Linked DNA regions of Homo sapiens: region 1 is linked to region 2. Evidence: fine-mapped QTL for protein levels in blood plasma. Region 2 holds a variant in brackets. A gene starts in the other region. All regions are shown on their forward strands.

The links. A credible set is the group of variants that fine-mapping cannot tell apart. PIP is the chance, under the fine-mapping model, that this variant and not a neighbour inherited with it causes the effect. The UK Biobank Pharma Proteomics Project read protein levels with antibody pairs (Olink). The fine-mapping took linkage between variants from a reference panel, not from the people measured, so its PIPs are less certain.
Region 1: SIGLEC7 starts here. The variant in region 2 is the best candidate, but not a certain one, in a credible set for the plasma level of the SIGLEC7 protein (UK Biobank, PIP 0.67).

Annotation. Positions count from the first base shown.
Region 1 is chr19:51,140,476-51,144,995 of GRCh38, forward strand. It overlaps SIGLEC7 (sialic acid binding Ig like lectin 7), which reads left to right and starts at 1,826. Exons shown (of 7, transcript NM_014385.4): 1 at 1,826-2,327; 2 at 3,931-4,209; 3 at 4,437-4,484. The coding sequence starts at 1,895. LOC124904749 (a long non-coding RNA gene) reads right to left here and starts at 35. Exons shown (of 3, transcript XR_007067310.1): 1 at 1-35.
Region 2 is chr2:134,204,625-134,208,624 of GRCh38, forward strand. It overlaps a transcript of MGAT5 not described here. Among named protein-coding and RNA genes, the nearest start is that of MGAT5, 47 kb to the right of the region's middle. RefSeq lists a silencer at 1,994-2,288. The variant C/A (reference allele first, on the strand shown) is at 1,667.

The DNA.
Region 1 (4,520 bases), not on the chromosome of region 2:
TAAACTGCTGCTTCTTGCTTTGCTGTCTGTGTGTGTCTCATCCAATTCTTTGTTTAAGACACCAAGAGCCTGGAACTGCATGGCACCATCCGGTAACACTTCTGCCCACTGAGATACTGCAAATATCCTTATGGGGAGAGAGTGGCTGGGCAAGGAGGAGGCGCCCAGGAGGCAGATTGGTCTGCAGGATGAGATACTAGCTGCAAATGCAGGGATTGGAGGTGAGGGCGGGGAGTGGCTTCGGACGCCCAAACCCAGCATCTTCCTCTCTCAATCGTTACAGCCAAATGATCTCTAGGTTATGGACAATTAGGGGACAGTGTGGGCTGAGCAGATCAATGCAGTTGTATGGAAGAAAACAGACTGGGATTTTCTATGTATACAACATCTTCAGGAAAACCTACGTGAAGTTAGAATTTTCAAGGCAGCATGTGCCGATGATAAAACTACATAGAACAGCAGGAAGACTATTATCATTAAAGTGAGGCTAGGGGCTCCTTCAGGAGGGAGCGGGGGCATGGCCAATAGGAAAGGGGAATGTAAGGGTGAATGAATTAATAAAATCTCTTTCTTCATTTCAAGGGACAGACTTGACAGTTCTTTTGTGTTCTAGTTCTTCAAGGGTGCTTATTTTGTGTGAATCACTGAGTTGGTTTTTAGGGGACACTTTTATGTACATGTCTTGTGTTTCTCCCCGCTCAAAAAAAACTGTTTCAAGAAAAGCTGGCCTGGATCTAAGGGGGCTGCAGCTTGCAGGATTTTTCCCACTTCCTCCCAGCCCAGTCACACAGTTTAAAATAATCTTCTGTTGAAGTCAGGTGCGTGTTTCTTCTCTCAGAAAATCGCGCCCATCACTGAGGGTGGACGCCCCGGGGCTGGTGTCTTTGCTCCACGTCTCCTGTTCACCTGAACCCCTAGGAGCAGTTCCTGCAGGAGCAAAGCCCCAGGGCCAGCAGACCCCTCACACTCTGCACTAACCAGGCCTCATGAGATAGCAGTGGTGAAGGGAAATGTCCTTGTGCTCAGAGAGCTGTGAGGATGGGAATAGTGTCTGCTCTTTTCATATTGATCCTTTCCCTTATGACTTTCCTGTCTACCAAGCCCCACAATACAACAATCACAGCCTCAGCTTCCCCGGCCTCCTGCAGGCTGGGCTCCCCTCCGTGTCCTTGGCGTGTATCAACAGGCGCAATCCTCACCTTCACAGCCCCATGTCCGTCTGCTCGGTCCTCCTGAGACTGAACCCCCGACCTAGGGGAGAGTGACCCCACCCTGCCTGTGCCCCCCACTGAAGCTCCTGTCATGGGGAGCTCAAACGTCAGGAGACTCAGTGTCTCCCCACCACACAGTGACTCCTTGGGGACAGTGTCCGGCTCTGCTGTGTTGACCTCATTGTGCAGAAAGGGGGTGCCCACCTCGTGGCTGCTGAGGGAGGGATGAGAGGCTGCCTGTTCACCCCACCTGCACCCCTGTCTCTCATGGCCCCGAGTCCCACTTCTGAGCTACGCAGACATCCACAGCCTGTGACTCAGGGGTCTGGGCAGATGGGAGTTATTTTCACCCTGCAGAAAATATCACCTAAAGGGAAAGGCATTGAGAGGGAGGCAGGAGGTGGGGTGGGCCCTGCATGGGGTGGGAATCTGGGTGAGTCTGTCTCCCGCTCTGGCCTCAGGGACCCAGGAGTGAATGTCGGGTGGTGGACGGTGGATCTCCCAGGGCTGACCCAGCCCTGACAGTGTCTGTGTGTGAAGTTCTTCTTCTAAGGAGGTCACTGTTTTGACCTCACCACCGACTTCCTGTAGGGCCTCTTCTAAGTCTTGAGCCCGCAGTTCCTGAGAGAAGAACCCTGAGGAACAGACGTTCCCTCGCGGCCCTGGCACCTCCAACCCCAGATATGCTGCTGCTGCTGCTGCTGCCCCTGCTCTGGGGGAGGGAGAGGGTGGAAGGACAGAAGAGTAACCGGAAGGATTACTCGCTGACGATGCAGAGTTCCGTGACCGTGCAAGAGGGCATGTGTGTCCATGTGCGCTGCTCCTTCTCCTACCCAGTGGACAGCCAGACTGACTCTGACCCAGTTCATGGCTACTGGTTCCGGGCAGGGAATGATATAAGCTGGAAGGCTCCAGTGGCCACAAACAACCCAGCTTGGGCAGTGCAGGAGGAAACTCGGGACCGATTCCACCTCCTTGGGGACCCACAGACCAAAAATTGCACCCTGAGCATCAGAGATGCCAGAATGAGTGATGCGGGGAGATACTTCTTTCGTATGGAGAAAGGAAATATAAAATGGAATTATAAATATGACCAGCTCTCTGTGAACGTGACAGGTAAGGCACGGGCTCCAAGAGAGGCCAAAGGCAAATGTGATGAGGGCTTTAGGGCACGGCTGAGACGGGACACATGTCCTGGGAGGGGGCCGGGGGTGATGGACTCAGGAGAGGAGCTGGACCAGAGCCTGAGCTTCCCCAGGACCGCACCTTGGATGCCCCTCCTGATCCTGCAGGCCCCTCCCCTCACCAGCCCTGACCCACAGGCCTGACATCCTCATCCTGCCTCTGACGCTGGCATTGTGGCATGTGGGGCCTTATGACTCCTTGTTTTGGGGCCTGTCCTAGGCATGGCCGGGGTTTAGCACCATCCCAGGCCTCTCCCCACCAGATGCCAGAAGCACCCACTCCACCCATGCAGTGAGACAATAACAATTATCTCCACACATTGTTAAACGTCCTGGGGGGTTAAGTCCTCCCCAGTTGAGAGCCTTAGGTCTACACAACCCCGTGACTCTCTCAGGCCAGGCCAGGGAGGAAGCACTTCCTGGCGCAAACCAAGGGCAGCAGAGGCACCTGAGCCTGGACAGGGAGACTCAGCACACGGCCCCTCCATCTCTCATGCCCTGAGGTCCTCGGAGATCCACATTTAGATGCTCAAAAGACAGGAGGGACCTCCACGATGGTCCAGAGGCCGGGAGGGCAGGACCTACGTGTCTGGTGCAGGCCCTGGTGCTCCAGGGAAGCCCGGAGGTAGGAGGTGGGACACGGTCTCTTCTCCTCCCTGGGTGGGTCTCTAGGGTCTCTGAGCTTCAGGGTTTCCTTCACTCTGTGCAGAGGGAACCAGTTCCTATAGCATGTGGGTTTGTAGTTTCTCTTTCGTGCTGGGTTGAGGTCTCCAGCTCCTCTCCAGCCCCTCTCCAGCCCCCTGTGGGTCCCACAGCCCTGCCCCTCCTCTCCCTCCCACTTCTCTGCTCACACAAGGAGCCCAGGAACCCTCTGTCTCAGAGATGCTGCTGCCTCTCTTGTGGGCAAATGAAGAGAGGGACAGTCGGGGCTGGGCTGAGCCTCATTTCCCCACAGCGTCCCAGGCCCCACTGTCAAGATACAGGCTGGAGGTGCTGGAGTTGGTGATGGTGCAGGAGGGCTAGTGCGTCTCTGTGCCCTGCAGTGTCCTTTAACCCTATTACAACTGAACTGACTCTAGCCCTGTCCATGGATGCTGGTTTAAGAAAGGGATCAATATACAATGGAATAATCCAGTGGCCACAAACATCCCAAATGGAAAAGTGCAGGAGACACGGGGCCGATTCCACCTCCTTGGGGACCTGAAGACCAACAACTGCTCCCTGAGCATCAGAGATGCCAGGAAGGGGGATTTGAGGAACTACTACTTCCAGGTGGAGAGAGGACAGATAAGATGGAATTACAAAACGAAGCAGCTCTCTGTGAATGTGACAGATAAGGCACAGGCTCCAGGAGACACCACAGGGAAAGGTCATGGGGGTGGCAGCGAAAGCCTGGGATGGGGCCCCTGCCCTGGGAGAGGGCTGAGGGTGAAGCGAGTTGGGCTCAGGGCAGAAGCTGAACCAGAGCCTGAGCTTCCCCCAGGGCTGTACCATGGATCCTCTGTCCTGATCCTGAGTCCCCCTCTCTTCACCAGCCTTGACCCACAGGCCCAACATCCTTATCCCCGGTACCCTGGAGTCTGGCTGCTTCCAGAATCTGACCTGCTCTGTGCCCTGGGCCTGTGAGCAGGGGACGCCCCCTATGATCTCCTGGATGGGGACCTCTGTGTCCCCCCTGCACCCCTCCACCACCCGCTCCTCAGTGCTCACCCTCATCCCACAGCCCCAGCACCACGGCACCAGCCTCACCTGTCAGGTGACCTTGCCTGGGGCCGGCGTGACCACGAACAGGACCATCCAACTCAATGTGTCCTGTGAGTGCTGAGCCAGGACGCCCTGGTCCCTGATGAGGGGGGGACGTCCCTGAGGGCAGAGGATGGGGTCAGGGCTCGACACTGGGTGCTGGGTCCCAGAATCTGGGCTGGTTGTGGGATCAGGAGGACGCTGGCTCCGCCTTCCCCATTTATGCAGCTCCTGGGGAGACAGGGCCAGTGTCCCCAGCCCTCACAGTGATGCAGGTCTCCATGTCTTTCTGTCCCAGACCCTCCTCAGAACTTGACTGTGACTGTCTTCCAAGGAGAAGGCACAGGTAGGATGGAGCCCCCTCCCTGGGGCTGGGGGAGCA
Region 2 (4,000 bases):
TTTTGGTCTCTTTCCTGTAGGAACCCAGGAAATCACTATTCCTTAAAACCAAGGAGATTGACTAACACTGTACCTTTTTAAGAGGACTTGATATTGCTCTTCAATTGTAAAACCATTCAGTCAGCTTGTGAACAGGTATCTCTCTGGGGATACTATGGGAAAAGCCCTGCCCTCAGTGAGCATATAGTTTGCTGGAGGGGAGTCACACTCCATCGACAAACAATTAAGACTGCTTCAGGTCTTCCAAAGTGTTCTGAAAAGACAAAGACAGGCAGGAAAAAAGGGTGGTGAGTGGTTGCTTTTGGTAGGCTAGGGTGATAACTGAAAAGTTGCAGGTGAGGCTTCAGGGAAGGAAAGGATGATAATACATAGACCTGCAGGAAGAGTGTTTACAGCAGAAGGAGCAGCAAGTGCAACGGCCATGGGTCAGGAACAAGCTTCGGCATGTTCAGGAGAGGACAGAAGGCCAGAGTTGTGTGCATGGCATGTGAGTAAGAAAGAGAGTAGGAGAGAGGTCAAGGGGTAGGCAGTGGCCAGACCATGTAGGTAATGGTCCAGTTTGGAGTTTGCTTGTAGCCAGAAGCCCCTGATAATTTTATACCTGTGAGTGACATCCTCTGACATTTACACTTCAGAAAGATGGCTTTTAGCCCTGCGGAGGGTGGGGCTAGAGCAGGCAGGAAGACGAGCTAGGAGCCTATTGCTATAATGTGGGTGGGAGGTGAGGGTAGCTTGGAATGAGATTGAAATAGTGGAGATAGTGAAAATAGATTTGGGGTACATTTTGGAGGCAGAGCTGGTAGATACTGATGGATTAAATATGAGGGGTGGGAAGGAGTGAAGAGAACGTACACATGAGGGCTTAAGGGTCTTGCTGGAGCAGCCGGAGTGGGAGATGCTGTTTGCTGAGCTGCTTTGTGCGTCTGTCAGAAAGCAGCGGCTCTCTTTCGGGCCTGCTAAGCTGGGGATACATACTAAACACTGAAGTGGAGCTCATGAGTGGCACATGGATGTTTGGATCTGGACCTTGTTCAGTTGAGGGGTCAAGGATAGATACATGAATTTGAGAGCCTCCACTTACAGTTGGCATTTGCAGTCGTGGGACAGGGTACACTTGCTGAGGGAGAGAATATGGATAGAGAAGAGATTTGAGGACAGAGCCCAGGGGTGTCCCAACAAGGTGAGTTCTGGGAGAGAAGTCAGCTGGGGAATTGCTTCAGTGTCCTGAAGGCAGATCAATGAGAAGGAGCAGTTCTATAAATAGAAATCCCTGCAGAGATGTTAGAAAACCAGCATTACAGCATGCCAAGAGATAGAATAGTGATTAATAACTGCTTAAAAGTGTATGTTCTGCCACTGGAATGCTAGGAAAGCTACCCAAAAAGGCTGTTCCTAATTGAGGAATATGGTTCTTAAATGTTTACATTGCCTTATATTTGTGATAGGGATTATTGGCTTTGTGAGCAAAGCTCTTTGACATTTGTGGATGGAGTGTACTCATTATTGAGAGGAATTTTCTGAAATGAATGTCAGTTCCTTTTTTCCCCTAAGCTTTGCTTTGAATTACTATACAGTTTACTTAAGAAACCTGTGATCAGCGAGAGGAAAGAGAAGTGATTTCTGAAGCTTCTAATGGCCACTTCCTGCTGAGTCTTAGCATTCTATC[C/A]TGTCAAGTATGCTAATGGGAGAAGGAGCAACATCTCTGGATACAAAGGATCGCCAGGATGCTGATGTGAATAGTAGGGGTGAGCTAGCTCTGTCCTCATGCCCAGACCTTGTCCTGATCTGTAGCACACATTTGAGAGACAGGAGCTGTATTAATTGCCTATTGCTGCTGTAACAAATTATTACACTTAGTGGCTTAAAAGAACATGTTTATTTTATGGTTCTGGAGGTAAGAAATCTGAAACGGCTCTGTAGTAGGCTAACACCCTCCAGGTGTTAGGCTGTAACTCCTGAAACGTGGATGTAGCCTTATGTGGAATAAGGGTCTTTGCAGATGTGATTAAGCACCTTGAGATAGGGCAATTATCGTGGATTGTCAAGATGGGCCCTAAATGCCACCTCAAATGTTCTCCTCACAGAGATGCAGAGGAGGATTACTCAGAAGAGAAGGCAGTGTGACCACAGAAGTAGGAATTAGCATGCTGTGGCCACAAGCCAAAAAATACATGCAGCCACCAGAAGCTGGAAGAGGCAAGGAACCGACTGTCCCTAGAGCCTCTGGAGGGAGCACGGCCCTGTCCTGCCTACCCCTTCGCTTCTACCCAGTGATACCAATTTCAGACATCTGGAGTCTGGAACTGTGAGAGAAGAGTTTTCTGTTGTTTTAAGCCACTAAGTATAGGTAATTATTAATGACAATTTGTTATAGCAGCAATAGGGAACCAATACAGAGTCTCACTGGGCTAATCCAGTGTCAGCAGGACTGTGTTCCTTTCAGGAGGCTCTTAGAATCTGTTTTCTTGACTCTTCCAGCTTCTAGAGTCTGTCCACATTCCTTCACTCATGGCTTCTTATGTCTTCAAGCCAGTCTTTGACACTTTTTAGATAGTGATTCTTCTGCTTCCCTCTTCCGCATTTAAGGACGCTGTGATTGCATTAGACCCACCTTGATAATTATCTTAAGGTCAGCTGATTAGCTACCTTAACTCCATCTGCATCCTTAATTGCCCTTTGCCATGTAAGGTGTAACATACTCAGATTCTGGGGCTATGACAGAGACATCTTTAGGAGCTGTTATTTTGCCTTAAAAAGGAGGCAATTATTTAAGTATATAAGGTGAATAGTTAGGTCTTTCTCTCCAGGAAACCTAACTTGTCATTCAGCGGTTACCATGCATGGGTATCTTCTTCCAATTGCCTGAGCCAGCCAGACTTTCATGTTTGAGCATTCAGATTGGGCTTTATTTCTCAAGGCATGTGGCAAACCTCACAATGACACTGAAAGGTTAAAAAAAAAAAAAAGAAAAATACAGTTGCTTACCAGAGATACTGATCGTTTACTTCTGCTAGGATCAGAAGAGATTTTAAGAGCTTAGTGGCAAATCCTGACCTTGGAAAGCCCTGCCTTACCAGGGGTCTTGTGCAGAGGTGTTATTGAGATCAGACACCAGGTTGCAGTGATATGTATCATTTGTGCTCTTGCCATCTACCGCCCCCTGCCTGCCACCAAGCCAACCTCAGGAGGTCTTTGCCCAGAGGCTTGGCAAGATGACTTTCCACAACTCAGGGAGGTTTTAAGGAGAGGGATTAGCATTGACTCTGATACCTTGTTGGTTTGTGTGTCATAACTTAAAGGTCCATGCTTCTCAGCTGGCCAGTGGTCACACCTGATTGGAAGGTGAAAAGACTTTGCGTTCTACTTCCAAAAGTTTTCACATTTGTCACACTGTCCTAACCCTATCAGCTTTGTTGCTATCATTGTAGTGAGGCCTGCCTAGGGATGATAAGTGAAGGATCCCCAAGGACACATTAAGACAGCACATAGAATCAGAGTTTTCAGACTCTTGGCCGAACTTTTTTTTTTTTTAAGCAGACCAGTATTTTCCAAACTTTGGACTTAGTTTCCACCATATTCACGTTACCACCTATACTTGTTACTTAACATATTTTCTTCAGTTTATCCTGCATCAACTCATTTATTTTAATTTGGTCTCATTCTAATTGACAGCATATAGCAGCTTATGAATTTGATGTGCGTATGCATGTTGCAACAAATACTTAACTATTAGTATGTATGCTACGGTGTAAATGTACCACACTCAGAAAAAACCTTATTAGACCATCCTGACTGTTTAGGAAGCTTGGTGCCCAAGGGAAATAGTCTTTGACCATCAGCCAGAATTTGGTTAGTTTCAGCAGATAAGAGAGTAGCTGGTAAGCTACTTAGGAACATTTTAAGTAGAATATGTGAGAAATGAGGATAGGATATGCCTTTATTCCCAGCAGGCAAAAACATGCATTTATTTACTATAGTTGTTATAATATAAATAACATAG